Regions from separate parts of the Homo sapiens genome. Here region 1 is linked to region 2. A link means that fine-mapping ties the variant in region 2 to the expression of a gene that starts in the linked region. Tissue or cell type: whole blood. Region 2 holds a variant in brackets; the other region holds the start of a gene. All regions are shown on one strand. Distances are between the middles of the regions. Region 1 holds the start of SORL1 (sortilin related receptor 1). Region 2 overlaps SORL1 (sortilin related receptor 1).

Region 1 (15,539 bases), 94 kb before region 2:
TAGCAGGCACCACCCCACCTACCTGTTCCCACACCCTACCTTGCCGCCACTCTACCCTGAAACCTTTCCTCCTTCTCCTCAGACGCTGAAAATAACTTCCTGCTTCCTCCCGGAACCAGAGCACTTTAGCCTTCTCTGCTTGTCCCGTTCCAACTTCCACACACACACCTGAAACCACAGCTCATAACGTCTTATTCTCCAGAGAGTTTGCCTATCACCCTCCCCAAAGCCAGTACTCATCTTTTTTCCCCCCAAGACAGAATTCTTTTTGTATTTACATATTTCTGCTAGTTTCATGTTTATCTTTCTTCTCTTTCTCAAGTTCCTTGCAGTTAGTGGCTGTGTCCTTTATAGGCATTTGAACCTATTATTGGGCAGATGATGACTAGGACATGCATAAAAATATGTTGCAGGGAAAGGACCCCCTTCTTGCTCAGGCTGGCTGCCCTGGTGCTGACAGGCCCTCAGAGGCCTCTCTGCCATTCTTTGCAGTGAAAACTAGAATGAAAAATTCAGTCTCCCCAGAGCATTGATTCAAAATTGTTCCTCCTTCCAGAACCAACTGCCGAAGGGTGTGAGGAGCGGGGGTGGGGGTAATTCTCTCTCACCACTCCCTTCACTTTTACTTCAATTCTGTAGGATCTACTCTGTCTCTGTTAAGTACAAGACAGGGGAATAGACTCCAAGACATCATTACAATTTAGAAAAGGAGATAAGTACCAAAATCGTTGTTCTAATGGAAGGCAGAACATGATCAACATCTCAAAAGAGGCCTAAAGCAAGTTTCAGGGCCTCTAGGGGTAGTTGGGGGAAATCCAGGAAGAGGTCAAGAAGTGGCCTTTTAGTTAATGAATAAACAAGGCCAGAGGGGAGAGCATCTCAATCTGTTCTGACTGGAAAAGGGGTCTGGGGGATCCTAGGTTTCTGTTAGACTGTATCCAGGAGAAGGCCAGGCATGGTGGCTCATGCCTGTAATCCCAGCACTTTGGGAAGCTGAGGTGGGCAGATCACCTGAGGACGGGAGTTCGAGACCAGCCTGGGCAACATGGTGAAACCCCGTCTCTACTAAAAATACAAAAATTAGCCAGGTGTGATGACACATGCCTATAATCCCAGCTACTCGGGAGGCTGAGGCAGGAGAATCATTTGAACTCAGGGGGTGGAGGTTGCAGTGAGCTGAGATTGCACTACTGCACTCCAGCCTGGGTGACAGAAACTCTGTCTTAAGAGAAGAAAAAAAAAAAAAAAAGGAAAGTATCCAGGAGACGTGGGCCAAAAAGCTAGTCTGACTGTCTGCTTTCCCTGTCTTGCTGGCCCTAAGAGAGTGCAGAGGCATCTGCTGAAACAAAGCATCACATTTCAACTGTGCTGTGTCCAAGCTGATTGGTCACATCCCCAGGCTCGTCTGTGCCTAACGCATGCATCCCCAGTGAATGTACAGCAAAGGCCTCAAGGGAAGAAGATACAAGCCTTGATATGTAATTACACGGGGATATTCAAATAATCTTCAGCTTAAGTTCCTCTCATTCACTTCAAACCCAGGAGGGGGAGTCCTACTCCTCTATATTCCCAGGGAAAGAGGTAATTTCCTAGGGACCCTCAGCAACCCATTGTCTTATGTCAGGAGGTTTGTCCTTGGGTCTACATAATTATAAGAAACTTCTAGGTTCCCGCTTCACACACTTTGTGAGAAAGGTCTAAATGCTTTCTTGATCTAGAAGTTCAGGAAGTTGAGTTACGCAGGGATGAAGGCCAGACAAGGGTAAACAGTGGAACCAAAACTTGAGGGCTTTTTTTTTTTTTTTTTTTGAGACAGGGTCTCTCTCTGTCACCCAGGCTGGAGTGCAGTGGTGCGATCTCAGCTCACTGCAGCCCTGACCTCCTGGGCTCAAGCGATCCTCCCCACTCAGCCTCCTAAGTAGCTGGGACTACTGGCATGTGCTACCATGCCTGGCTCATTTTTGTATTTTTTGTAGAGGTGGGGTTTCGACACATTGCCCAGGCTGGTCTTGAACTCCTGGGTTCAAACGATCCTCCCGCCTTGGCCTCTGTAAGTGCTGGGATTAAGGGCATAAGTCACTGTGCCTGTCTGAGGGACCTTCTAAAACTTGCGCTCTCTCACAGGTTTTGAAACACATTGGAAACCAAATCCCTCGCTAAATTCATCTCCTAGAAAAGTATAGAAAACAGGACTGGACTTGTGAGCTTTGTAACTGTAACATTACTGCTAACTTGTCCCAATCAGGGCGTGAGGGTCAAGCAGATACAGCATCTCACCTAGGCTAGGTACCTAGGAAGGGAGACAGTGCTGGTTAAGGCAGGGCTGAGTTGTGAAGGAGGTGAGGCCTACAGCCACTCCCTTTCCTTCTTTCTGCCCTAATTCCCGCTGTTCCACTATACCCAGGACTTGAAATACCAGCTCTTCTCTTCCTAAGAGAGGTATCAGATGTGGCAGAAAAAGGGAGCCTGGGTTCAAATTTATCCCTTACTAACAGTAAGTTAGCAAGCCTGTTTAACTTTAGGCAAAGCAAATAGTCTTCCTTTCTGAATTTCAATGCTTAAGGTCTGTAAAATGGGGGTGACAATAATTCTCGCTTTGGCCCACTTCAAAGGGTTGCTGTGCGATGGAATGAGATAGATAATGCTGTTATAATGTTATGCAAATGTAAATCACTGCTATGCAAAATAACTTACTGCTATTTCCAGAAACTCCTCTTTGGATTTAATTTAATCAAGAGTGAGAATATAAGTTACTTATTCTATGCTCTGGGTGCATTTGTATTTTAAACCTCATCAATTATCTTGGACGCTTTCCTAACTGAAGTAGATTTTGGCAACAGCAGGAGAAGGAGTTATTTCTTTGGGGGCAGGCGGGTATTTCTATTTTGCCTGAGCTGGTGAGGTCAATGGTAGTTATTTGGCCAAAGTAACATGGAAGAGGGAACAATGTTTACCATCCTAAGGGCAGGGAAGTCCCTTTTCTGCTTTAATGACTCTGGTCTGGTTGCGTGACTCAGAGAGGCCTGCTTTGGGGGAGAAAACGAGGTGGGAAGCAGATGGTGGTAAGAAAAGATCTGAGATTCAACTACATTGGCCCCTTAACCAACCATTGCCACCAGGACAAAGGTGGTGTCACTTCTCACCTTCATTTAAATGCATGCATCCTATAAATATCATTGAGTGCCACCATGTGCCAAGAGTATGCTGGGCACTGGGCGTCTAGACTTGAATGAGATAGACTGGTTTTGTCATTCTGCTGCTTGTAGATTAAGAGGAAGATGGAGATTAAGCAAGTGACCAGAGAGGAAGTATCAAAGGCTACAGGGGACTAGAGCCTTAGAGTGAGGGCTGTAACCTAGCCTAGGTGCCTAAGGAGGCTGCTCTGAAACCTGAAGGCTGAATAGAAGTTGGCCAGCCAGGAGGTGAGCATGTGAGAAGGCCACAGGAAGAGAAAGAACAGAAAGAAGTCAAATTAGGCTTTGGGGAGTTTTTTCCTCTTCGTGGCTGTCCTTGCTGCTATTTTAAACATGACTCCACCTGGATAAAAATGTAGGACACTGTGACCTCTGTGTGTTTGTCCTCTACCTCCATCTCCAGTGGCCTAAGATGGGCAGTAGGACAGAGGAGGGCAGTTTAAAGTCTGACAACAGGCTTAAGACTGTTTTATACACAGCTGTGAGTCTATCATTACATTTCCGTGCATGTTGATTTTCGTCATGATGCTGGGCAGCATCCGAGCAAGGCCATGCAAGATGGGACAGAGGGGGATATGGTACTGTCTTCCATCCTGCACCCCAACTTTGATGTTACTTCAGAGGGATAGAGGAAGTGGTAGCTTGTTTACAACCCAGAGCTGGTTTTGAAGCTGAGAGGAACACCTCACTCATATTGCACGATTCAGCTCTAACTCCTGTCCTGGGTGACCTTGCCTGTGGCTGCTCCTATCTCACAACCCAGTGGGGGTCCTGAAGGTTTGGGAGTGGTCAGGGCTGAAAGGTGTCTTTTCATTTAACTTATGAAGAAATCGTAAGAGACAAGATGATCAAGACAAAAAATTACATAATAATTTGGTTGCAAAGCCAGGACTAGAATCTATGTTTCTAATGCCACCTGCATGCACTATTTCTCTCTGGAGGCCTTCACACAAATTTGCACAGCTATTTTATATACTTACCTCATCTGATACTCTCAGCAGTCCTGTGAGATTGGTAGGGATTAAGATCTCTATTTTACAGATGAGAAAACTGAAGCTCTGAGGAGGTTTGGCCAAGTCCCCACAGCTAGAAAGTCAACCTTCTGACTCAGAATTCAGCGTGTCTTCCACTGCGTTCTGTAGTTGTGCAGCAGGCACAGTCTTGGGGGGTTGCTGATTATCTACCTGAGAATGGTTTGGAATGTAGATAATGATTAGATAGGAGGGCTTGCAAGGAGTTAATTAACCATGTTTGAATATTCTTACCAATTCTCTAGCATTCAAGTTGCAAATCAACATCAAAATGAGCAAGTAGCTGGCCCTGCCCTACTAGTCCTTCTGTGCAAGGGGCCATCTGAACCTTAAGCCAGCAGTTTGTGTGGGCAAACAGATGCCCATCTTCAAATCCACACTTAGGAGACTCCTGTCTCTGTTTTCTGCTGGGACTCTGACACTTGCTCTTGCAGAGAAGGTTCTCATTAAATATATGTTGGAAAAACCCCAATAATTGAATCATCTACAGGATGTTCTCACTTTAGCCATATTCCCTTCATTTTCCTTTGAGGGCTAAATGGGAGTAGAGATATCTTTGCTGCTGGTCCTGAGAGACCATGGGGTTGTCCATTCCTGGTAAGGTGATGCTGACCAGACAGAGCTGATCTAGATGAGGGGTGGGAGGTGACAGTGGTTCAGTGGCTTTCTTGGAGGATGCATGATTGTTTGAATTATTATTTTTAATTGACATATATAAGTATATAATAAATATATATGTTATATATATGAGTTAGAGCTGAATTGCACAATATGAGCAAGGCGTTCCTCTCAGCTTCAAAACCAGCTCTGGGTTGTAAACAAGCTACCACTTCCTCAATCCCTCTGAAATAACATCAAAGTTGGGGTGCAGGATGAAGGCACCCCAATAATACCACACTGGGGAAAGTGTGGTATTTTGATACCTGTATACAATGTATAATGAACAAAGCAGGGTGGTTAACATAGAGAATGCATGATTTGCTTGGTGGGGAGAACTGGATGGTTCTGTAATTATGTTGAGATGGACAGAAAGACATCATCTGACTTGGGGAGAAAATCGGGTGTGGGAGGAGGTGGGAGAGTGCAGAACCTGAGGCAGAGGTCCCCAGCAAGTCTGGCATGGGGTAGGGTAGGGTGGTTGAATACTGGCTTCAGGGAGATGAGGCAAGCTGGCCTGACTCTGGCAGGTTGTCAGTGGTAGTCCTAGGTAGAGGAGGGGGCTTTGCTAAGCTACCTGAAAAGTACTAGAGTGGGCCGGGGTAGGAATCGGGCTACCGTGGCTTGTCGGAGATGAGGAATGTTTTTAGAAAATTGAACTGACCATCCCTTCCTTCCCCTGAACAGCAGCTTGTATGCAACTATAAAGGTAGTCTCCCTTTCAGCCCTGCTTGCTGTGTCTTTATTCTTATCAAAAACCAGGATCTGAGTTCAGAGGGCAGTGAAACATAAAATGAAATAGGAAAGGTTGCAGTAGTACATAGACTTTGGCTGCTCCCACTAACCTGCAAAAAAAATATTTTCCTTGGGCGTACCTTAGCAGTTCCATGGCAGAAGTTTTATCTCCTGTGGTTCAGAGAGTTTGGCTCGTCAAGCTGAATGTAGGGTTAAAGTGTGTCCTCCCTCCTCTGTGGGTGTTTGCCTAGCTCCTGGCTGTGGGTTGAAGGGACTGGTAAATATGTCTATTTTACTGCTGAGGCAGGGTGGCTCAGTGCTTGGTCACCTTGGAGGGATCATAAGCAAGCCGCCGCTGGGGCCCTGTGCCACGCACAGGTATTCATGCGTGCGTGCAAGCACACCCTGTATAGCTGTGTAATAATTGTCCAGGTGTGGTGCATTCTTTGTCAGATGTACCCTTGTTTTTACTGCCTCTGTGCAGGATGTTTATTTGCTGTGCTTCAGGCTGGGGCACGTAGCTTGATCAAGGGTAGTTTTTGCTGTGGCCCCTGCAAATACGTTGTGGTGCCCAGAGTAGATGAAAAACTGTGAGTTTCCCAATAGAGCGGGTTCATCTGGACTCTTGTTGGTTGCGTTCTAGGAGCTAATTCTGTGGCTCTGGACTCTTCCCTGGAGGTGGGGATGAGGCCGGGGCCGGGGGGAGGTGGTCTTGTGGCGCTACTGCGGGCTGTGCACTCAGGAAAGTGGCCACGGTTTAGGACGACCTCGACACGACCCTGTATAGGACGCAACTAACTCCAGAGAAAACGAGCGAGCCCCATGCAACTCTTCATTCCTGCAGGGAGAACAAGGAGGTGTGCCCGCCAGGGAAGGGACGCACCCCCACCGGCGCTCGCTGCCTTAACTTCCCCATCCCCGCGCCAGGGAGGGGCCGGAGTCGCCGCCGAGGCCGCCGAGCGCAGAAAGTGCGCGAAAGGGACGCGCTGCGAGCCTCACACGTGACGGCGCCGCGCCGAACCGAGCGGGACCTGGCGGCAGCGGCGGCGGGCGCAGCGGGGCGGCCCGGAGCGGCGCGGGCGGCCTGGAGCCCCGGGAGCGGCGCGCGCGGTCCCGGCCCAGCGGCTCTCCTGGCCTCGCGCTGCACATTCTCTCCTGGCGGCGGCGCCACCTGCAGTAGCGTTCGCCCGAACATGGCGACACGGAGCAGCAGGAGGGAGTCGCGACTCCCGTTCCTATTCACCCTGGTCGCACTGCTGCCGCCCGGAGCTCTCTGCGAAGTCTGGACGCAGAGGCTGCACGGCGGCAGCGCGCCCTTGCCCCAGGACCGGGGCTTCCTCGTGGTGCAGGGCGACCCGCGCGAGCTGCGGCTGTGGGCGCGCGGGGATGCCAGGGGGGCGAGCCGCGCGGACGAGAAGCCGCTCCGGAGGAAACGGAGCGCTGCCCTGCAGCCCGAGCCCATCAAGGTGTACGGACAGGTGAGCAGTTTTGCAACCCGCCTCCCTCCAGTTTTTTCCTCTCCCTGCACTTCCTCACCCCCGCATCCATCCGTTGCAGTCGCCTCCTAGGTGCAGGCACCACTGGGGACTTCCCGGCTTGCATTTGTTTTTTTCCTTCACGAGTACAACCGTCAGCACTTGAATCGCATTGATCTTTCCTTCTTCCTGTCGATTTAGTAAACGTATTCCAGGTAACTCGCCGGGTGCAGTGCGTATTACCCCAGGGTGTGTGCAGAGAGATGTAGTTTCCGGCAGGTATAGGAGGGGTGCAGCTTCATTTTACATCTGGATAAAAAACGGGCTTTCTTTAGTGTATCATCAGTTGGCAGTGGAGGCGAGCACCCTGCAGTTGCGGTACACTTACACAGAACAGCACGAGGTGGGGGTTTCCACACTTAGCATTATTAGCACAATAAAAGTGGGCAAACCTGAAAGCTTGTCGACTATCTCTGTACAGTCAGACAAGAGGTGTGTGTATGTGTGTGCGTGTGTAAAGGCTGAATTTTTAATTTTTAATTTTTGGCGAGCGTGTGAGATGCTCTCCATTCCTTCTTCCCCACCCTTCAAGATGCTGACTCTCCCACCCCCGTCAAGATAACTTTATTTTGGAGAGGAATACCCCTCATGGCACTTGGAGATTTGAAAGGACTGCAGGAAATTTGGTGGGCATTATTATTCTATAAGTGATTTATTTCTACCCAGGCAATAGGTTTATTAGATCATAAGTAACGTGAATTTCACTTTTATGGTCAGACTTACTGCGAGGAATTGCAGATGGAGTTTGTAGGTTAGGATCAGCACTGGCAAAATTAATTTGACCGTGTTATTGCCTCATGAGACTCCCAGTCCTGCAGTTAAGATTGACATCAGCAAAAGTATAAGGTCGGTGGGGGAGAAAAAGTAGGACCAGAGGAGGGGGTAAATACACTTGTTTTCTAGAGTCAAATTGTTCCTTTTGAAGTAGAAATTATTAATAAAAGATTACCCTGAGTTCTGCCTTTTCTCACTAATTTCACTTTAGCCATTTCTTCAGGAAATACAGAGTTAAATGTTCAACCCTTGGATCCAGGACGAACCTTGTAAACATATCACCCTATTGTGTCATTTTGTTGGTGAAGAAACTGAAGCGTGGAATGGTGAAGTGACTAGTCCAAGGTCATACCGGGAAGGTGGCCTGCTCTCTAGTTTTTGTCTGCATTGTCTCAGTGACCTTTGCTTGACTGCAGTCACCCTGTCTTTATGCAATGCTGCTGAAATACCTCCTTTCTAAAATAAAATAGATCTGGTATAAAGGGGGAAAGGATGGTGGTGACTGGGTGGGAGCGTTGGATTTCCCTCCACTATTGGTCCCTGGGCAAGAATGTGTGCCCCAGGGCATGTAACTAATGGTGGCCACAGGCTGCAGGAACCTGCATGCTCAGTTCCTCTTGGGCCCAGATCCTTGTCCCCCTGTCCCCACCCCATATGACAAATATGTGTATGAACAAAAAGAAGTCATCAAGGTCCTTGCTCTTAACAGCGACACCAGCATGGGGCTGATGGAGGGTGGGAGAAGGAGGAGGAGTGGCCCACTTCTTCATTGGGCCTCCGCAGTCAGCCCAGCTCTGCTGTGCTCTTGAATCAGCATTCTGGGAACTGGGAGTTGGGGGCTGGTGGGAGACAATCCCTCCCAGTGCTCAGGTCCCCTGAAGCTATAGTTTAGGTTGAGGAAAAAGTTTTCTGGTTTCAAAAATATGTGTACATGTGCCATTTCTTTCTTGGGTTTGGTTTATGAAAAGCTCCAGGGGATGTGGGGCAGGTTGGACATGAACTCTGTTCTCACTGGGAGTGACTCCCAAACCCTGGGCTTTTGAGTTTCTGGGCCAGCCAGATTGAGTTTGGTTCAGCTGAAGGATGGAGAACTAGCAGTCAAACTCATAATGAGGAATTCCTAACCGGAGGGTGAGGGTACAAGGGTGAGATTTTTCTTCTCTGTGGCTGCCTTCCTATGCCATTGTTGCCTCTTGCTCTGAGGTTAATAAGAAGTGGAATTAATTTGAATCTGTAAGGATTTGAGTCAGATAAAAGGAAGAACTTCCCTGTACTGGGCTTTCTGCCACAAGTTCTATCTGGTGCAGACCCTTCAGAATGCAAGCACAGGTTGGTGACTGAAGGGGTTTGAGGTGCCCCTCTTGGAACTCTGGAGTAACTAACATCTATTTGGAATGATCTTTCTAGCAAGGATGACCATTGCCTCTGTGTTTCCCTGGGGCAGACCTGGTTTCTAAGTTGTCTCTGGTGGTTATGAATAGCACCCCCTTCACTCTCAAAAGTGTCAAGATGTGACAATAAATTATATGGTCCTACTTTTAGCCTTAAGCCAAGTTCCACTTTGTAATCACGACTTTCCCCTTCAACGTTTAAACCTAAGGAATGGTGATGTTTTCCAACAGTACTGCTTGACTTGAGTGTGGTTCTATGGAGGTGCAGTGAGCTGGGGAATAAAATTTCATTCCTGCTTTTAGGAAATTTACAATTTAAGGAGGAGAGCAAGCAGATGCAGATACAGGCATGTCAATGTACCAGGATGGGAACCAGGAAACATGGTCACAAGAAACCAGCCACAACTCTACAATGGTGTGATAACGGGCTGTGTGACATGCAGCGCATGGGAGATGGAGAGATAAGGGGTGGTGGGCTCAGACACTGTCCAGCTTCTTGCCCTCTGACCTTTGAGTGAGGTTAAGAGGACACTGGCAGCACAGGTTAGGGCTGGAAGCAGAAGCTGCCTGAAGGAAGCAGGCCTAGAGGCGATGTTAAGGCCACCACCTTCAGGGAGAAGAGAAGGGAAGGCTTTCTAGGGGAATACTTGCATCTGAGAAAGAGCCCTGTGCTGGAGTCAATGTCGGTCCTTTTTCCTCTGCTTCGCTAATGTCTTGGGTAAACTAGGCTTGGTTATTTTGACCATTTTCCTCCTCAGTTTCTCTAAGGTGGGGAGACCGGCTTCTGCCATGATTACTTAAAGGCACATTTATGATACTGAAATGTGATTGTAGGGGTGAAAATAATTTGCTGGCAGATATCAGGACTTTTCTGCCCATGTTCAAGGCTCACGCCTGTAATCCCAGCACTGTGGGAGGCCGAGGCGGGTGGATCACTTGAGGTCAGGAGTTCGAAACCAGCCTGGTCCACATGGGGAAACCCCGTCTCTACTAAAACTACAAAAATTCACTGGGCGTGGTGGCAGATGCCTGTAGTCCTGGCTACTCAAGAGGCTGAGGCAGGAGAATCGCTTGAACCCCGGAGGCGGAGGTTGCAGTGAGCCGAGATCGCGCCATTGCACTCCAGCCTGGGGGACAGAGTGAGACTCCATCTAAAAAAAAAAAAAAAAAAGGCAAAGTTTAGAAGTTGAGCCCCTTCTTAAAGGCCAGGTCCAAGAAGAGGGATTCCCTAATTCATGCCACACTGAATTTCCTCCTGATTTCTCATAAGCTCTGTCTGTCTGCGCCATCATACCTGCTTTTTCCTCTGCCTGAAATGATCTTCCCCAACTCTTGTCCTTGCCTGGGAAGCTCTTATTCCATTCTTTAACATCCAAGGAATACCTCTTGGTATTCTCAGGCTATGGTGGGAAGAGTTTCTTCTGAGCTTGGAGGCAGCACTTACTGCCTTGTGTTAGAATTGCTCAACTGTCTCATCTTCCTGTTTGCTCCTTGAGGGCATGGATCAAGTTCTCTTGTGTTTCCCTGGCACTTGGGAGGCCCTTAATGAGTATTTGTGGACCAGCCACACACCTGGAAGAAGAGAGGCCCAGAGGGTAGGAAGCACATTCACATTATATAAAATGTATTTGTAAGGAGGAATACAGTGAACCCACACATGGATAGTGAAAATGAGATGGCTCATTCGGTAGTGAGGATGCAAGCGGCATGGCCTACAGATAGTGGAGCCCTGATTTGCCTGTGCTATATGGGAGTTATTTTCAATGAAGAGCTTGGATTCTATTTTACAGAATCCTCCCTTTTAGGGCTATCATTCTGGTTTATGCTAATGGTATTGTTTTGGGGAAAAATCCTTTGGAATAAAGCACAAAGCCTAACAGGATTTACAGGTTTATTTTCCTTCCAACAAGCTCTCTCTTCATAATTCCTACATTTTAGAAGCCAGGGAGTATTCAGTGTCCTGATTTGAGACTGAAAATAAAGTGTCTATTACAGCACAAGGCCCTGGGACAAAAGGCCTCCTTTGGGGGTGGAATACCGTTCAGCTTTAGATCTCTTTTGAGTAGATTCTTCCATGATACACTTGCTTGGGAAAGAATTGGCTGGTTGATTCTGAAGTTAGGATGTTTGACCTGTGTGCTTCCAGAATAAGATGAGAAGGCAAAGAATGTGCTGCTTCAGGTTGGCTTTTATGTAGCTGAAGAGTTGCTCGGGGCCTTGGGTTGGCTCAATAAGGGACGTGACCTTGAAAAGCTCTTCCTGGTTCCACTTGGCGTCTTTTCTTAGGGAGCTCTGTGCCCAGTCTCTGGCCGCTTTTAGTTCATAAATAGCTTGCATGGTTAGAGGCACAGAAGGTGGAGGCTTTGCGAGGGGGAAGGAATGGAGGAAAGGGGTTGGTGAGAAGAGTAAGGAGGCGGAATTTGGAGGGATGAAATAAAAAGCTGTCTGATTAGGTAATGCACGTTTACAAAACAAAATTTGTACAAAAGCGTATGTGGTAACAAATTTCCTTCCCTCTCATGCCCCCTGTTCACCCAGAGCTCCTTTCCGGGTGGCATCCGTTGTTATCAATATTTTTGTATATCTTTCCAGAAACAGTCTATGCATGTACAACATGTATGTACATAAAATTGGAAACTTGAATTATAAATGGCTTCCTGTTACCTGTAGTCCCTGGTATCCTGAATAATGAGATTAACTTTAGCTCTAAATTATATTTGTGATATTATGATGGTGAATTGTTAGAAAATTACCTGAAGTATCATAATATAAAATAGATGATTACTTTTTTTCCAGGCCAGGTGAGAAAAACCTCATTCTCCTTTCACTTCAAGCGTTCTTGCAGAGCAGGAGAGCAGCCTGATGTAGCCCCCTTGTAACTTGGAGAGATGCTGGAGCACAGTTCCCTTGAGATGTGGAGTCCAGGCTTGTAAGAGCATCAGAATACAGTGATCATGGATCTTGGTTTTAATTTGTGTTCTGTCTGAGAATGTTTTCTCTATGTTCTGTAAAATGAAGTTAATGGTATGCTTAATAAATTGCTTTGAGACTTGGGATCCACGAGGCAGATCCTTATAGCAACGAACATCCCAAGGCAAAAGGTGGATGTTGTAGGAACATTTCATTGTCAGATTTTGGTCTGTTCCTCCTTAGAGATGACAGCCATCTTCATAGTGTCATTGTTGAATCCCAGGGCAGAGATAGTTGGAGCCAGCTTTGTTCCACCCACTGTAATGGAGGGACACAGGGGGCAGTCTTATCATAATCTGGAGAGCAGGTAATCCAAAAAATAATCGATTTGCTTTTGCTATGTATTTATGTAGTCTTTTTTTTAAAGCATTCGTTTACCTTCCTAATTAAGTTTTGCTCAGGTGAATATTAAAATGAGTTTGCATTCTTTGATCTATTGATAAGGGAAATGGCTGGCCTAAATGTATTCAGGGAAAGGCAGTTTGGAGTTTAGAATTTGCGACAATAATTCAGATGCAGATAATTGAGAGTTGATAAAAATGTATTAAATGTTTTAAATGAATAAAAATGTATTAAAACCTGGGGGCATTACATTGACCTTTCCTCCATTTATTTGGATTTAAATAAATGTGATGGAAAGTAAAAGAGAGCTCACTGCATTTTTGGTTTGAATATTCAGGGATTAGTATTTCTCCAGAGGTGGTCTGGGCTGTGGGGGTGAGGCATTCTCTGTTGATGAGCATGGGACTTTCCTATGCATTTTCTAGGTATGCCAGACACTGTTGGCAGATGGTATAGTCAGTCTAGCCACGTACATGCAAAAATCAATTTCCCTCAATTTAAAATGAGCCACAGTTAATTTCGACCTAATTTATTGGCTTATCGACCTGTGAACCCTGGGCCTTCGAAGAAGTGGCATGGGCGGCCTTCAAGCGCTGAAGTGGCTGATGAAGCTAAAATCCAGAAAAGGCAGGGTGGGCTGCTGAGCAAGATCAAGATTTGAGTTTCCTCCTGTGTTATTGTGAGATGCTCAGTTTTTTTTAACTGTAACATGACCAATGCTTTGTGCATTTTATGGTGGGTTCCGTAAAAATAGGACTGCGTAACGATCACAAGTACACTAGTGTGTTAAAAAATAATTACAAAGTTCTGTTATCCACTGGGTAACTGTTTATTATAATGGTAACATCCATGCCCATAGCACTGCTACTAGCCAAGAGCTGGAAGATCCTATCTTCCTGGCCGCGTCCTGGACCCTCCGATGTGGCACTGTTCAATAGATCTTTCTGTGATAGTGATGTTTTCTATCTGTGCTGTTCACCATGTTCACTAGTCAGATCTGGCCATTGAGCAGGTGAAATGTGGCAAGTGTGACTGAAGACTTGAAGTGTCTTTCATTTAATTTTAACGAATTTAAAGTTGAAATAGCCACATGTGGCTCTTGGCTACTGTGTAGACAGCACAAGCTTTGACAAGGCCTCTTCTTCCCACCTGTAGGCAACCTCTGCTTCACCCAAGAGAGAAGTTCCTGCAAAGACCTGCTCGTGTAGGCAGGGCAAACAGGGCAATAAAAGCAAGAGTGGAGGGCTTGGGTCTAGACCCTAGGTATTGGTGGCTGCTGACTGCCAAGTTGAGTGTCAGGAGACAGTGGTCCTTCTTTCCTAGGTAGGAACTCACCAGGGGGACCGTGGAGGGCCAAGTGGGTCCGGTGGTTGGCTCTAGGGCATGCCTCTGCACAGTTGCCTCCTTCTGTCAGTCACTTAGTCAATGAAGGCTGGCTATTCATAGGGTGAACCAGATCTCTGTGGCTTCACTTCTCATCTGGCCTTGCGCAAACACTGCACTTGTATCGGGCTTTGCTAAGGTGGAGCGCAGACCCTGCACGTTCTGTTTAGCAATGAAAGATGTAAACAGTGCCTTAACAGTGGGGCCATCTCCCTGCCCTGCCCTTTGCTTCCTGTGCTTTTGTTGACTTACCTTGATGTAGCTGGGTCTGTCTTTCTTCCCTTCAACCCTCCAGATTGGCATGAAGACAAACACTACAGGCGTGTGGTCTTCATCTTTGCATATAAACCTCCCCCACTTCTTGGCTGACCTTTTAACTTAGCTTGCCATTGCTGTTGCTGCTGCTGCAGGCTCTTAGCTTGGAAAATCAGGACCCTTCACAATGATTTATCTCCAGTCCCCTGAATTAGATTCAAAACACAGCTACGAATTCTCAGAAAGGCAGGCTGATGTGATTATATCCCAAATCTGAGTGGCTGACAAGGACAATAAAAAGATGTACCTATATCAAATGCATTTGTGCCGTGTAGAGACCAATATGTTGTTTATTATCTCCCCCCCTTTCTGGGGGTTTTTTAAATGAAGAAGGTAACTGATGTGACCTCTATTATTTAGAAGAGAGACTAGCCTGTTGAGTAGAAACCCTGGGGGAAGATGACTAGGGTGAATCTTACATGAAATAAATGTGGGGGTGAATCAATGGGTGGGCCCTCAGTTGGGATTTTAATATTTTAGGGATACTGAGATGATTTCCTTCTGACTTTGGGGGGCTGGTGAGCTGAGGTGTAGTGTCATGATGAATTTTTTTTTTTTTTTTTTTTGAGACAGAGTCTCGCTCCGTCACCCAGCTGGAGTGCAGTGGCTCTATCTCGGCTCACTGCAACCTCTGCCTCCCAGGTTCAGGCGATTCTTGTGCCTCAGCCTCCTGAGTAGCTGGGATTACAGGTGCGCACCACCACGCCCGGCTAATTGTTTTGTATTTTTAGTAGAGATGAGGTTTCACCATATTGGCCAGGCTGGTCTCGAACTCCTGACCTCGTGATTCACCCACCTTGGCCTCCCAAAATGCTGGGATTACAGGTGTGAGCCACCGTGCCTGGCCTTGGTGAAATTTTTAACTCTGTGCCCAGAGGCATTGGAAAGGCTGGTATGATCTGGTTGAGCCTGGAGGGCCCTGGGTTAAGAGCCACCTGTGGAGAAAGGCTAGCTTGGGGACTGTGGCTGGGAAGACTTTAATAGGTACCTGTGAGATAGCAAGCTATAGGGTTAAGGTCCCAGATAGTTAAGGACCCCATTTCTCTATTAGCCCAGGAGACACATGCGAGACAGTTCCACCTGTCTCTGCCCCAGGGACCTGGGGAGAAAGGCCAGTGCTGATCTGCCCAAGGATCTCAGCCAAGGAGCCCGAGATGGCAGGGAGTGGGGACAGAGCAGAGTGGGGTGAGTGTCCTGTGAAACCAGAAGTGT
Region 2 (15,539 bases):
TTCGTCTGAGTGCTCTCAAATAAACTGTTTCATAATCCATTCTTGAAACCACCTTTTCTTCATTAAGGAAATAAAAGTATTTTCCCTATTCTAGTTTTTGAGATCTTTGTTCTTCATAATTCTCCTAGAGATTATTGAAAAGGATGCTATAATCATCCTATCTTTAAGTCTTTCAGTTCCTTAGAATTTATTTTGTACTGATTTTCCTTTAACTTAAATGGTTTTTCTTGTCCAATTTGAAGATTATTTTCCTTGATAAAGATAAAAGCAAAATAGAATTTTTTTTCTATTTTTTTTAGACCCAGCTTTACTACTATGTTGTTATTCAAAGATTTTTTTCTTTTTTTTTACTAACGAAGTCTTTATTTCTTTTGTTTTCAGCTTTCCAATCAGCCAGAAAACATAAAGTATTTTCAATTCAAAGTTCTAGTAAAGATAGGAAGAACTGGGTGATGGTTTTCATAAATGAATGAATGAATGAACGAATGGATGAATGTGTATCAAGTGCTCTGTTTTTTTAAATTGATACATATGATTATGTCTGCTATTATTTATTCTATTGGCCATCAGAGCAATGATCCTATTCCTTTCTAATTCTTTATAGAACTTGCCAGATAACCAATCCACTGACCCACCAGTCTGCCAATTATTTTGGTAATTTGAAACATAAACCTTGATTCATTTTGAACTTATCTTGCTACTATTCCAACAGACTACTGGCTATGAGAATTACAGCTGGAATTAGCTAGCAGTAACTGAATTTGTTGCTCTTGGTTATATGACCTTTTTTCCCATCTTGAATATGTTCTTTAGAAACCTGAACTCATCAGGAACTTTTCTGGGTAGCTGCCTGCTAGAGTCCTAAGTTGGGTATCTACCACACTTCTTCCTTTTAGAGTATCTGTGGTTATATTATGTTTTATTATTATATTATCTGACCTTCCCATCTTCTTGAGAGTTTTTGGCCCTGGGATTATGTCTATATTTTTATCTGAACAGTTTGATTTCTTCATTCCTAAAGGCTAGTGCCCTATATCCTCTTTCATAACTTAAGAATGCAAAGATGGGCCAGACGCGGTGGCTCACGCCTGTAATCCCAGCACTCTGGGAGGCTGAGGTGGGTGGATCATTTGATGTCAGGAGTTTGAGACCAGCCTGGCCAACAAGGTGAAATCCTATCTCTACTAAAAATACAAAAAAAAAAAAAAGAATGCAAAGATGACTTTGTTTCTTCACAAGGTTCTTGTCACTTACTTTTACCAATACAAGTTCTCCTTTGGGGGTCAGAATTCAGTCCAAAATGCGTGTTCTCTTAACTGTTGCTGTTGATAAGACAAGAGCCTTTTCCCCAAAATTCTGAAGAGCACCATTTTCTAAATGAGCAGTGTATTTTCAGATACAAGCTATGCTTGGTCATGTACCTGCTTGTTATTTCATTAATGAGTTATTGTCAGAGTCCTCTGGGAACTCTCAAGAAATGGGGTGATTCATTTCCTGAGGTTATGTTGGGTTCGAGGAGCTCTTAAAGAGAATTAACTTGGCAACGTACACATAGATAGACTTTAGCATTACCACTGAGTGGGCAGATGGCTGCCATCATGTCTGGATAATAGGTTGACTCTGTTGGTTCAGTTTGCTTTAAAAGTAATATAAACCTTTAGCTTCACACTGGTTACAAGAAGGAGACTGAATGAGTTAATTTATCCAAATATCTGTTTCAAAATTTTCTTAAACCAAAAGCATATCTGCCAGGTGAGATTTCTCCCCTTGTGAGAGATTTGTAGGGGGAGATTACTTAGTCTCCCATTGACATTTATTATTCTGCCTTGTAACCCTACCAGTTGGTTTAACCCCTAGCCTTTTTGTAGCAGTATCTTTTTTTTTTTTTTTTAAGGCAGGGTCTCGCTCTGTCATCCAGGTGGGACTGCAGTGGTGCAGTCATGGCACACTGCAGCCTCACACTCTTGGACTCAAGCAATCCTCACACCTCAGCCTCCAGAGAAGTAGCTGGGACCACAGGGGGCACCACCACACGTGACTAATTTTTTAAAAAAATTTTCTGTAGAGATGTGGTTCTCATTATGTTTCTCAGGCTGGTCTCAAACTCCTGGCCTCAAAAGATCCTTCTGCCTTGGCCTCCCAAAGTGCTGGGATTACAGGCATGTGCCACCACGCCTAGCCAAATCGATTTTAATAATCTCAATATGAGATGAAGTGTTTGGATAGAATGATGTCACGAAAAGATTTCTGTCAAGGATTAGAATCCCAAAGGTGTAAAACTAAAATCTCAAAAACATGAGAAAGGTGAAAGAAAAAGTTTTGCATATAATTTGGATTTAAGAAGGACCCAGAAGCCCTGTGATTCTAAAGAAGGCTTGAATTGAGTGATTTCTCATGTCAAGCGTCTCACCAGCTCACTGGGTGATAAAACAAGTGTTGGGCAGATTTTCTTCCTTGCCTCCCTCTCCGTCCCTCTTCTCCTTCTTCGACACCAAAGATAATGTAAAATCAGTGCAGTTACTCAAATGCTGCTTAGTTTTTCAAGGGCTGGCTTCCTGCTTCTGTTATAGTCTGTCTTGGAGACTTTCCTCAGTATATACTTTCCTTCAACTTTTTACTTTTTAATTTCTAAGACCACGGGAAAGTTGGAAAAACCGTATAACGAACACCCATGAAACCTTCACCTAGAGTCACAAATTGTTAGCATTTGCCGGTTTGCTCTACTTCTATCATTGGTCTATTTATCTATCCTGTGTATCCATCCATTATTTTTTAGCTGAATCATTTTAAAGAAAGTTGCAGACATCATGCTCCCTCACAGCTACTTAAATGTGTATCTCCAATAAATAAGGGCATTTTCCTATATAATCACAATGCCATTCTCACACCTAAGAAAATTAACATGAACTCGGTATGACTTATAGACTATATTTTCTCAGTTGTCTCAAATTATTTATGGCCACTTTTCCCCTTCAATCCGGGATTTAGCCAGTCCTGAACTAAATCCTGGATTGGATTTACACATTGCAAATTTGTTTAGTCATTGCATTTGGCTTTTATACTCCTTTAGTCTTTTAAAATCTATAACACATTATCTGCCTTTTTTCTTTATTTATTTGGTTTTTGTGGCCTTGATTTTTTTTTGAAGAATCTGGAGCAGTTATCGTGTAGAATATCCCACATTTTGGATTTGTCCAATTGTATAGAATAGTACACAGAGGATGTGTTATTCTCAATGCTTTATTCAGGAGGCACCTAATATCAAGTTGTCCTGCTATTGATGATGTTTAGTTAAGATTGTGACTCTCTGATCATTCATTGTAAGATTATGTTTTGTAAAATTTTATTTCCCCATTTGTAGTGAATGATTTGTCTGTTCAGATCATCTGAACATCCTGGCCCCAACACTTTCACCGAATGGTTTTAGCATCCAGTGATGATCCTTGTGTGATTTAGTTATTGCAGTGGGGATAATTTTTCTGTAATTATATTATATTATATTATAATATATATATTGTTGTGTCCAACCCTTATTAAGTGCCATTCTAATATAAGAAAAAAATTGGGGGCCAGACACGGTGGCTCATGACTGTAATCCCAGCACTTTGGGAGGCCGAGGCAGGCGGATCACGAGGTCAGGAGGTCGAGATCATCCTGGCTAACATGGTGAAACCCCGTCTTTACTACAAATACAAATACAAAAAAAAAAAAAATTAGCCGGGTGTGGTGGCGGGCACCTATAGTCCCAGCTACTCGGGAGGCTGAGGCAGGAGAATGGCGTGAACCCAGGAGGCAGAGCTTGTAGTGAGCCGAGATCATGCCACTGCACTCCAGCCTGGGTGACAGAGTGAGACTCCATCTCAAAAAAAAAGAAAAAAAAAAAGAAAAAAATTTCTCTTTTGCTCCTCTGTCTTTTAGTATCATTAGAGACCCATGTCCTATTTTCATTCAATGTGTAATCTGTTACCATCATTTTTCTTTTTTATGTTTGAATTCTCCTAAATTCGGCCAGTTGGAGCCCCATCAGGCTGGTTCCTGTGTTCTTTTGAGATGACTGCATTTATTTCTGAGCATTTCCTTAAACTTTCCCTGCCTTAGCCCAGGATCAGCCATTTCTCCAAGGAGCCCTGGTTCCTGTTCCTGGTGAATGTTATATGGAAACCAAGCCTTTGCCTTAGAGACTTTCACTGCAAGGATTCTCTTACTTGCATTTGGGCAGATACAGTACCAATGAAGGGGAGACCTGGAAAACATTCATCTTCTCTGAGAAGCCAGTGTTTGTGTATGGCCTCCTCACAGAACCTGGGGAGAAGAGCACTGTCTTCACCATCTTTGGCTCGAACAAAGAGAATGTCCACAGCTGGCTGATCCTCCAGGTCAATGCCACGGATGCCTTGGGTAAGCTGCTGCCTCCTTGGACCTTTTCACATGGATATGCGTGGACTTCCTGTTATGTGCAAAGCACCAGCTTAGATACTGTGTACTCAGAAGAGCCTGACATTCATTGGGGGAGATGGGCCCATAAGAGTTAGCAAAAAGCATAGGGAGGTAATTGAAGGCCTGCTCAATTCTTCTTAGTAAGACTGGGTGCTATTCTTTGTATCTTAGTTTCCTCATGCAGTTCCTGGCACATAAGAAGTTTAAATATATGTCTGCTGAATATGTAGATAAATGCATGAATGAAAAACATATTTCCAAATCAGCAGTGCCAATTGGACGTATTCAGTGAGTGTGCCTGACTGTCTGTAAGTCAGTGTGCCAAGCGACACAGGGTCCTCTCAAAGCCATCTAGGATCTAGTTGTGATCTGCTAATCTAGATACAGGATGCATAAGTATGCAGGGAGAAGTGAAACTCTTCAGCATCCTCTCCCTGCTTCCCCATCTTATCTTACCCTTTCCTACCTCTCAGCCTTGGCTAACCTGATTCTAGCTGCCCGGAGTGCCCTGTTTCTTCTCATTTCCACCCGTTCAGCCTCCCCTACTCGAAATCCTTTTCATATCTCAGGATCCAACACATTTGTGGCTGATATCCCAACCAGAAGACGTCTCCCTTCTTCTCTATGTCCAGAACATAAGTGTATGCATAACTTTGTGTCTGTCACTCGGTGTGTTTCACCTTCCATTGACTAGATTATAAAGCCCTTAAAGATAAGAACTTGCCCTGTGCATATTTGTATTGTACCTACTGGAAAGCCTGATAGCCTAACAGTCTGTAGGAGTTTAATAAGTTTACTGATTTGCATGGCATTGAGTCAAAGGTTGTGTATCAGCTTCGGGTAGTATCTAATCTGACTGAAGACACATATATAAGAGACACAAAGTGCCAACATAGACATAGGCATACTTTGGAATGCTTGTAGAAAGCACCCTACTTAGACATTTCGATGAACGTGGCAGATGGAGTGATGGTGCAAGGTATCTTAGCATTTTCCAGCCTCTTTCCATGGAGATCCTGTACCTTCAAGTAGGGCCAGCGAGCCCTCCATTGCCTTCGGGCCACACTACCAGATGTGCCCTCACTGCCTGAGGAAGCAGGCCAGGAACATTAACCCCCAATGGTATTGCTCATCAAGGATTCAGCTGTTCCCTAGTTCTCTAGGAGAGAAACACTTCTGAGTACTCATTTCTAAAGGGCACTGCTGACTCTTCTGTAATGTTTCGGAAATTTGGATAGTGCCTAAAGGTGGCTTGCTTCTTTCCAACTTTTCCAGGCAGATGCCTGCGTTTCAGGTATCCTTTTCATTGGCATAGGGCTGCCCAGCTTCAAAACAAGCTGATTGGAGGGTCTGTGTGCTTGCGGGGTGGCAACAGATAGACAGGAAGTGGGGGTTGAGGCCAGGCACCTTGAGGCATAGCAGGAAACCCTACATGGGCCTGCCTCTAATGCTTCGTGCTGTGTTCCTTTTTCTTTAGGAGTTCCCTGCACAGAGAATGACTACAAGCTGTGGTCACCATCTGATGAGCGGGGGAATGAGTGTTTGCTGGGACACAAGACTGTTTTCAAACGGCGGACCCCCCATGCCACATGCTTCAATGGAGAGGACTTTGACAGGCCGGTGGTCGTGTCCAACTGCTCCTGCACCCGGGAGGACTATGAGTGGTCAGTTCTTCTTTGATGGCTGGGGACTGAGTTGTGTTTTATTCACTCAGCAGTGTTGGGGGAAGAGATTAGGCATGGTCCCTTTCCCTGAGCAAAGGAAGGGAATAGAAGGAAACAAGTATTTGTGAAGCATCTTTTATGTGCCAGGAACTGTGCTAAGCATGTTTCATGTAAGTTGTTTTCTTTAGTTCTTATAGCCAGGTAATGCGGTAGAGGTGTCTAGGAGAGCTGCAGCTATTTCTACAGGAATAGATAGCTCTGGGATTTATTTCTATTAGGGTAACCCAAAAATATGCTGAAGGTTTCATTGTTTTTAATCCTTCTCCTTAGGACCCTATTCTAGAGGGGATTTATTTCTTTATCTGAAACGAGGGGATGTTAGTGTGTGTATATGTGTGTGTGTTTGCATCATTTATTATTCCTTAAGCAAAATATCCAAGGCACTGCTGCGAATGCTAAAAGTAGGAGAAGTGATTTGTGCATGGCTAATTGGCACAGGAGATAGAAGAGAGCAAGTGCCTCAGAGGAGGAACTGGTACTTTTATTGTGACTATTGAAAGGAAGGAGAGGGCTGTGGATTGCTGTTGGAGAATGAGGAGATTTTTGGAAGAAGTGCTGTTTGAGCTGGGCTCTCAGGGAGCATCAATATTTGCAGACAGCAGTGTTTTGAGACCATGTGTCTGCAACAGTCAGGTGTAGAGGCAGCAGGGTGTGGTTGGGAGTTGAATTGGGATGCCTTGTTGGGTGTATGACATGGGGATGACAATTGGAGATGAGGCTGAAAAGATAGAATACAGTAGGGGAGAAAGACCTTAGAGGGGATGAACCTTATTCTATAATTAGGAGGAGGCCTTCAGCGGCTTTTGAGGAGAGTTGATGATGAGAACAGAGCTTAGCTGTAGGAGCTTTTGAGGAGAGTTGATGATGAGAACAGAGCTTAGCTGTAGGAAGAGGATTCTAGTGGCAGAGTACAGAGGATCTCAGAGCTCCTGGACAGTCACTGTAGTCTGTAATTCAGCATGAAATCATTGTAGTTTAGTCAGGAGCACCAAGAGAGCCATGGGTATTTAATATAAATACACAACTCATATTTCAGTGGTTGCTGAGGCACAGAGGAACTAGATTTTGCTTTGGGCAGCTGTACTTGTCTTGACTAAAGCCAGAAACCTCTGATGTATTCTAGACCAGAGGTTGGAACATGGTCATATAGTAAATGTTTTAGACTTTGTAGGCCATATGGTTTCTATGATCTGTGTTACAACTCCTCACTTTGCCCATGGCAGTGCCCATGGGTGAATGAAAGCAGCTCTAGAGGAATGAACGTGGCTGTGATCCAGTAAATCTCTATTTACAAAAATGGCCAACCAGGTTTGGCCACTTCTGTTCTCAACCAGTGCTTCTGAAACTTTAAGGTGCATATGAATCACTTGCAGATTCTGCCTTGGTCACATGCAGATTCTGCCTCAGGAGTTCTGGGGCTCTGCGTTTCCATCAAGCTCC[C/G]AAGAGATGTGGATGCTGCTTATCTGCACATTCGCCCTTTGAGCAGCAAGGCTTAGAACAGAGAAGACAGTCATTTCCTTAGAAAGGTGTGTGCTCCCAAGGTAACGACACAGACTCTTTAACAGCAAAAGCACAGGGCTGGCTGATGTTCTTGGTGACTTCAGTTCCATGCTGTTTGCCTTCTGCTCTTTCTTACACACTTTTGCATTATAGTCTAATCTAATCTGAGAGCTTTGTTGGCTCCAGGTAGTCCTCCCCAGACCAGCTTGAGACTGGAGAGGTCCTAATCCCTGAAAAGATCATAGTGCCCTCTCTCTCCCCTCTTCCTATCCCCAATATGTACTTCAAAATAAAATTAAGACTAAGTAAAAAATAGGTAAGAAAGTCTAACAAATCTTTGGGGTTTTTTTTTTTTTCATGACATTTAGGCTTAAAAACAAATAACATTAAAATTTTCTCTCTTGCCCTACATTTCCCCAACCCTCACCAAAAAAAAAAAAAAAAAAAAAAAAAAAATCACACACACAAGAAAAGAAATGGAGCTTGGTGTGCCCTCCTGGGTAAACTGGCCTGGGACCTGCTGGTCTACCATGCCCACCCCATCTGCCTTGCTGGAACCTGCTGTATGCTCACCCTGCTTGTATGTGGAGTGTTTTTATTGTAGACCAGTAAAACCACCTGCTCTGCCCCTTGTGGAGTTGGGTTGCAGGCCAAATGAGATCGTGGGGTGATGACCCTCTGAAATGGTAAGGGGTATATGGATGTCAGCTGTTCCCCGCTCCACCCCTCCCAATTGTTTCTCTGCTTGCTGTAGCTGCTGGAAGGCAGCCAGCCCAACTATATGGCTCTTGGAGATGTTTGATGGCATTGGACTATGGCACTGAGAAGGAAAATGGTCCCAAGATGGACGTCAGGAAATGAGATGAGAATGAGCAAGCTTATAGTATCTTTCCATTAGTTCAGGTACTGGTTGACAACTGTGTTTGAACACCAGGTTATTTCTGATAGTCCTTTTAGACCACACTGGGAAGCCCAGCTATTGGCCCATGTTTCCTGATTTCCATGGTAGATTCTTTTATGTTCTTATATTTCTCGACATTGCCAAGTCATACAGCTTTCACATTCTTGACTGCAACCCCTAGTAAATAATACATTTTCTCTTATGACCCTGTACTTACATATGTACGTGTAGATACATACACACATATAATTAAAACACAAGTTTTAGGAGACAACATTGACTTTTAAATGTATGATGGGGCCTTTTGCAATCTTTTGCACTTTTTTGGGAGGGGAAGAATCTAGTCTTGGGCCTCCCAAGTACTCTCAGAGTCCACTAGGTCATGACCTATGGTCAAAGAAAGCTGCCCAGGAAGAGTGCTTTGCTATTGGAGGCAAATAAGTAATTAGCTAATGCTTTATCTGGTTCCTAAAAAGATTTAAAGTGGCCGTTCAGTAATAACGAACTGAGGTAATGAAAGAGGCACATTTGATACAGTGACAAAACTGCTGCCTTTTGAACAATTCTTACAAACTATTAAATGTGGATTATGATATAATGCACACAAATCACTCTCTGTGTATCTGTTAATACTTTTTGTGTCAGAAATGTTTAATGAATATTTGGAGTTTTTCTTTTTGTTTTTTGTTTTTCTGAGACAGAGTCTCACTCTGTCACCCATGCTGGAGTGCAGTGGTGCAATCTTGGCTCACTGCAACCTCTGCCTCCCAAGTTCAAGCCATTCTCTTGCCTCAGCCTCCAGAGTAGCTGGGATTACAGGTGCGTGCCACCATGCCCAACTGATTTTTGTATTTTTAGTAGAGACGGGGTTTTGCCATGTTGCCCAGGCTGGTCTAGAACTCCTGACCTCAAGTGAGCCACCCGCCTCAGCCTCCCAAAATGCTGGGATTACAGGCGTGAGCTACCATGCCGGACCTAAATATTTGTTGAATTGAATAGAGCAAATAAATGTGTTCTGGTAGAGCACATGAACGTGGAATATATGTTCTGTTCTATAATTCTTTGAATATATTCTGTAATTCATTGAATTATAGAATTTACAGGTTTGGAAGGGCCTTAGAACATTCATAGTACAGTCACCTCGTTTTAGAATCGTCTTCGACTGAGGCCTCCTGCTTCCTACTCCAGGATGCTGCCCTTCAAGCTGGGAGGTTTGGCAGATGTGACTCCAGATCACAAGAGGTCTCATGAACCTAACTACTGTATCTCAAAGTACAGGGTGACTTAGCTAGTATGTGGATATACTCTTAAATAACATTGAACCCCTAGTCAAATTTTTTCTTTTTTTCTGAGACAGGGGCTTGCTCTGTTGCCCAGGCTGGAGTGCAGTGGCGCAATCACGGCTCACTACAGCCTTGACCTCCTGGGCTCAAATGATTCTCCCACCTCAGCCTCCCAAGTAGCTGGGACCACAGGTGTGCAGCACCATACCTGGCTATTTTTTTTTATTCTTTTTTGTAGAGACAGGGTCTTACCATGTTGCCCATGTTGGTCTGGAGCTCCTGGGCTTAAACAATATGTCTGCCTTGGCCTCCCAAAGTGTTGGGATTACAGGCGTGAACCACCATGCCCGGCCCCAAATAATTTTTTAAAAAGGTTATTCTTTTAAAATTCCTCTTTTACTTCTTCAGATTCTGTCAAAAAGAACGTCTCATTGGTTGCTAGTAACTGTAACATTTGCCTAATCCCTTTTAACAGAGAGGGCAGGTCCAGAGTCTTAAATTGGGAACTGGATCTGGCTAAAATTTAATACTGTTTTGATTTGGCATGATGATTTTTTTTTTTTTTGGTCTATTTATGGCATGTGATTGTGTTTTTCCAACTGTGGTTCTGATATAAATCTTCTTTTGAAGATGTATTTTATATAAAAAGTAAATATTCTTTAAAGGGACATGTTAAATAACTTATAATAAAAGTGAAAAGTAGTAAGGTAAAGTCAGCAGAATTGGTACAGGAATGCCTGAAATGTATAAAACCGTGGCCTTAACAAAGCCCAATTGCCTTTTTAGTGACTTCGGTTTCAAGATGAGTGAAGATTTGTCATTAGAGGTTTGTGTTCCAGATCCGGAATTTTCTGGAAAGTCATACTCCCCTCCTGTGCCTTGCCCTGTGGGTTCTACTTACAGGAGAACGAGAGGGTATGTATCACAGAGGTTGCCCTGTCAGGTTCTCAGCGGTCCGCACATGGAGCGAGAGAGCATAGAGGACCGTCTGGATTGCTCTACACTCGAAATTCTAGAATTCCAAGTTAACAGCCTGCAAGTAGTTTGGGCAACATTATAAATTATGGTATTTGTAAACTCTCCTACCTCCACATTGCAAGTCTGTAAGCATCCCTGAAACTCTAGGAATATCTTAAGTCATCAACTTCAGCAGGGAAACATCTTCAGAGGAATGTATTCAAGAGATATATTTAAAAATCTTGGCCAGGACAGTGCCCTAAATTGTCTGGGCCTGCCTAGTCTAATTATAAGGAGAACTGACTCAGAACTACGAACATCCTCTTTCTAGTTCTAAAGAGAAATGAGTGGATGGACTCTACTGGCCGTGGGTAGTAAGTGTATTCCCAGCTGGGATGCCTTTGTGGCTATTCTTCCATGTTTCTGACCTCTTGCTCTTGGGGTGGGGTGACAGCTACCGGAAGATTTCTGGGGACACTTGTAGCGGAGGAGATGTTGAAGCGCGACTGGAAGGAGAGCTGGTCCCCTGTCCCCTGGCAGGTAAGAGAGGTGGTTTCTTCCCTTTCATTTCTTGAGACATGGTTGAAGCAGTATCACGATCTCACCCAAGTCCGGGCTTGTGGCTCCTTTAATTGAGTGGAGAAAAACAATGGCCGTCACAAGCATCACAGGGCTTCCTCTTTTCCCTAAGGTTGGTTTCCACACTGAACTTGTACATAGCCATACCCGTTTTTAGGAATGGAAAGTACTTTGTGTCAGCTCAGTTTCTTTGAGGGAAATCCCTTTGTTAATTGAAAAATATTTATTCAGCATCCACTGGGGTAGAAAGATCCCCACAGGCTTTTGTGTGTTCCTTAATCTGTTTGTCAAAGTTGAGTATAAAGAGGTGTGTGACTTCTTAGGAAGTAGCTAAGTAGTCTATGTTAATTTTATAATAAAACTAACTGTAACTAAAATTTTAATGGAATTTTATAGATTTCAGTGTACTTTTTATGTGTTGCCAGTTTAACCCTTTTAACAACTCAGGGAAGCAGATATTATCAATTTTGTTTTTTACTTTTTCACGAGGAAGCATGTTCAGAGGAGGTTAAATGGCTTAAGGTCACACATCTAGTAAGTGACAAAGTTGAAATTCAGACTCTAAGCCCCATGCTCTTCATTGGACATTGCCCAAATGGCAAATAAATATCATTCTCACTATTTTAGATAATCATTATGCATGCTAATTAAGAAAAACTTCTCTGAAATGATTCACATGCTATAAAGGTATAGTGTGTTCTAAAACACGTTTCTGCTAGATTTAGTGGTGATGTAACATGGGGTCTTTACCACAGAGACATGAAATTATGATACTTTGAAAAATAATCTCTTAGTTGCTTTTCTTCACTCTGTTTCCAGTTCTTATTCATTTAAAGCTTCTTTATTCCCTCTGTGCCCTCTTTCCTGCCCATTACCTCTTGGTGAAGGTAAATGGCTGGAGTTAACTTCCGTCTGTGGTGGGTGGTGGTGTCTTACGTGGACAGCCATAAGCACCGAATGAATCATGAAAGAAGTGTGTGGTCTCCACAGGCAGGGCAGGGCAGCCCTCTCTTTTGCTCACTGCCGCCAGCTTGCCCTGGTGTTTTTCATGCTAAGTTCGTTAGTCCCTTAATTTAATCTTTCATCATTACCAGAGTAATTAACATACCTCACTATGGAGGCTTGAAAAGAACCACCACTTCAGCAAATTCCAACAAATGAGCAGATAATATTCAAATATTTCCCTCACAAGAGCTGTTATTGATGAGGGCGTGGGTTAGTAGGGTTTGAGTGATTGCTCTTGAGGGGCTGGAGTGCCTACTTTTGTAATAAATATTTCTGAAGATAATTCAGCAAGGGACAAAACAGTTTGTTTAAAGCCATCTAAACTGGCAGGAAAGCTATTTTCTCTTCTACTGGAAGATAGAACAGGGAACGAAGTGGAGAAATCTCATTCCATTGTGGGCCACCTCCTATGTAAAAGAGAGAAAAAAAAAGGCATGGAATAGGAGGCAGGGATATACCAGGAAAGAAAAAGATGCTTTCACAGGACTAATGGGGGCCGTAATATCTTTGCAAAGATGAGGTAATCTGGGCATCTGGAAGGATTTTTTAAATGCAAGAATTTTTCTTCCTTTACAATTACTATGAAAACACACATTCCTTGGCCAGGACCAGCCAAGAATTCCATTCCTTTTCCAGGTTAAGCATTGCGCGCTGGAATGCCGCATGCTGCTCTGAACATAATCCTAAAACACGTATTTCTGGATTCAGGTTCTACTTTATGGGTATTAGTTTCTTAGAGGAAAAAAAAGCCCAGAGTGACAGAATGAGGTTTATAGATGCTGGAGAGAGATGTGGGGCAAAAGCCTTGCTGCTGCAAATGTAGCTTTCATGTCCCTATACCTTAGCTGGCCCCCTCCCTGGGAATGACAGCGGGAAGGTTTCCTTGACAACCAAAAGGGGAGGTAGGTTACCATGTGATGGTAACATAGATACTTCTAAAGTGACCTGGAACCAAAGGAAAAGAAGGAAAACTTACCTTATTAAAAATTGTAGGTAGATTTATTTTTTGATGCATTATCTATATTACAGCTTTTATAAAGAAGGTGAGTGGTACATGTTAAGTCACTGAGTGTATGGAATCAGGAAGTGGGCAGGAATGGCTAACCCAGGCATGCAGCAAAAGAATTCCGATTTGCATCTTGGTCCCATATGCAACACACTGTCAAGATGCACACTTTAGACACAGATGCTGGTGTGCTGCTTGTGTCCACTCCTGGGGAAGAATCTGGATGTTTCCCAAGCCGTTCCCTAAGTGGACAAGACAGTGTACTGGGTCTTCCTATTTCCAGTTGTCTGACATTAGGTAAGTATCTTCAGCACTCAGGACCTTCATTTCTACATCTTAAAAATCATCCACGGTAGCGTCTGTATCATAACAGGCAGCACAGTGTAGTGGTTAAAGCATAGACTCTGGATCCAGAGTGCCTGGGTTCCAATCTTGGTTCTGCCACTTGCTAGTTGTGTGACCTTGGGTGAGTTACTTAACCTCTCTGGTCTCAGTTTTCTCATTTGTAAAATTTGGTTAACAAGAGTTCTACCATCAGGCAGTTGTTGTGGGTCTTAAACAATACCCGATACGTAGTAAGCACATTATACACAATATGTACACAATTTATATTTGTTGAGTAGAAACAGAATTTTTGTGGTGATTATGTTGTGGAACATTTTGTAAATAGCCAAGAACAAATGCATTATTAGTATTATTTTGGAGATCTAAGAGGTTCATAGAATTGCCATATGGTGTTGTGAACAATATGAATAAGTGAGCAAATTGATTAGAGAGCTTAGTTACAAAGCTTCAGTGACTAATGGTCTCTCGTCAACAAGATGATGATGCTGTGGTGATACAGTCACGTGAGGAGGGAGAACAGGGCGATTGGTGTAATTAGGTTGGCAAGTGTGACTTGAAGACTGGCAGGCTTAGCCCAGAAGTATGGTTGTTGAAGCATGCATATTGGGAGATTTAGAATAAAGAAAAACATAACAAGTAAAACACTTGCAGATGAAGAAACAGATTCACTGGAGTTTAAGTAACTTGCCTGAGGCAGAAATGTGATTCCATTACACACCTCCTGAGTCTTGATTTCTGTGCTCTTCACTTGGTCCACACCACATGCCAATGAATTTGAGGTTTGTGTATGAGAAACAAATAGGTCAGATGTGCTAGGACCTCTTCAGCATCCCCTGGGTCCAACCTCCCACGTGTCTTGTGTGTCTGGCAGAAGAGAACGAGTTCATTCTGTATGCTGTGAGGAAATCCATCTACCGCTATGACCTGGCCTCGGGAGCCACCGAGCAGTTGCCTCTCACCGGGCTACGGGCAGCAGTGGCCCTGGACTTTGACTATGAGCACAACTGTTTGTATTGGTCCGACCTGGCCTTGGACGTCATCCAGGTGAGTCAGCGCTTGGTCTGACTGTGGGAGCTGTGCATCGTGACTGCCCTGTCCTGATAAGCTGCATGCAGAATGGCCTATGGAAATGGGCAGTTAGAAGTTTGTAAGTGTTACTCATCTCAGGGCTGACAGGTGAAAGTTTCCAGTCTTCTGTGTTAGTATTTTTCTTTCTCTGTCTTCATCTGTTCATATAGGAAGGATAAAGAAAGCCCTAAATCCACAGACCTGCTTGAAAGTGAGGTCTTGCTTTTCCTGCTGGGAAGGTGTTGGGACTAGTAATGTAGGATGATTAGTTGCCCCCCTATTGTGCCAACTGCCTCTTGAGCATCTTTCTTCCCAAGCCATGATACAGTAACACTTGACTTACCCATAGCTCACATAATTATCCACTTCAGCTGTTCTGAACACAGGTAAGAACCAGGAAGTAAGCATTAAAGAGCCCTGGACAGGCCAGGTGGATAGCCATACGCTCACACCCATGCATTTAAAGGAGAGCTCTTTGATCTTTATTCATTGTCTACTTAATCCTTTTAGAAAAGCAATTCCAACAAATTTTTATCTAGATTCCAACCCAACAGAAATTTCACAGTGCCTGGGTATTTGAGGGGCTTGGGGTGGGGGATGGCGGTGATGCTGAATGGAGCTGTCCAACAATAGCACTTGATGGCTAAGAGCCTCACAGGGAAGAAAGAGTATAAAAGCAGACACAAGAACTGAAATGTAACAGCAGTCTGGTTTCACTTATTTTAAAAGCAAAC

What was found.
Region 1: it holds the start of SORL1, and the variant in region 2 is fine-mapped to the expression of SORL1 in whole blood (TOPMed, PIP 0.92).

The regions. Positions count from the first base shown.
Region 1 is chr11:121,445,522-121,461,060 of GRCh38, forward strand. It overlaps SORL1 (sortilin related receptor 1), which reads left to right and starts at 6,793. Exons shown (of 48, transcript NM_003105.6): 1 at 6,793-7,095. The coding sequence starts at 6,811. It overlaps SORL1-AS1 (SORL1 antisense RNA 1), which reads right to left and starts at 7,446. Exons shown (of 3, transcript NR_183636.1): 1 at 7,154-7,446; 2 at 4,175-4,378. RefSeq lists enhancers at 3,157-3,236, 5,750-5,809, 7,200-7,389, 7,400-7,449, 7,490-7,559 and 2 more and silencers at 6,680-6,729, 6,860-6,909, 8,754-8,803.
Region 2 is chr11:121,539,329-121,554,867 of GRCh38, forward strand. SORL1 (sortilin related receptor 1) reads left to right here. Exons shown (of 48, transcript NM_003105.6): 13 at 4,220-4,398; 14 at 5,915-6,101; 15 at 10,632-10,760; 16 at 11,257-11,342; 17 at 14,609-14,781. Among named protein-coding and RNA genes, the nearest start is that of SORL1-AS1, 94 kb to the left of the region's middle. RefSeq lists enhancers at 11,684-12,883, 14,440-15,037. The variant C/G (reference allele first, on the strand shown) is at 7,602.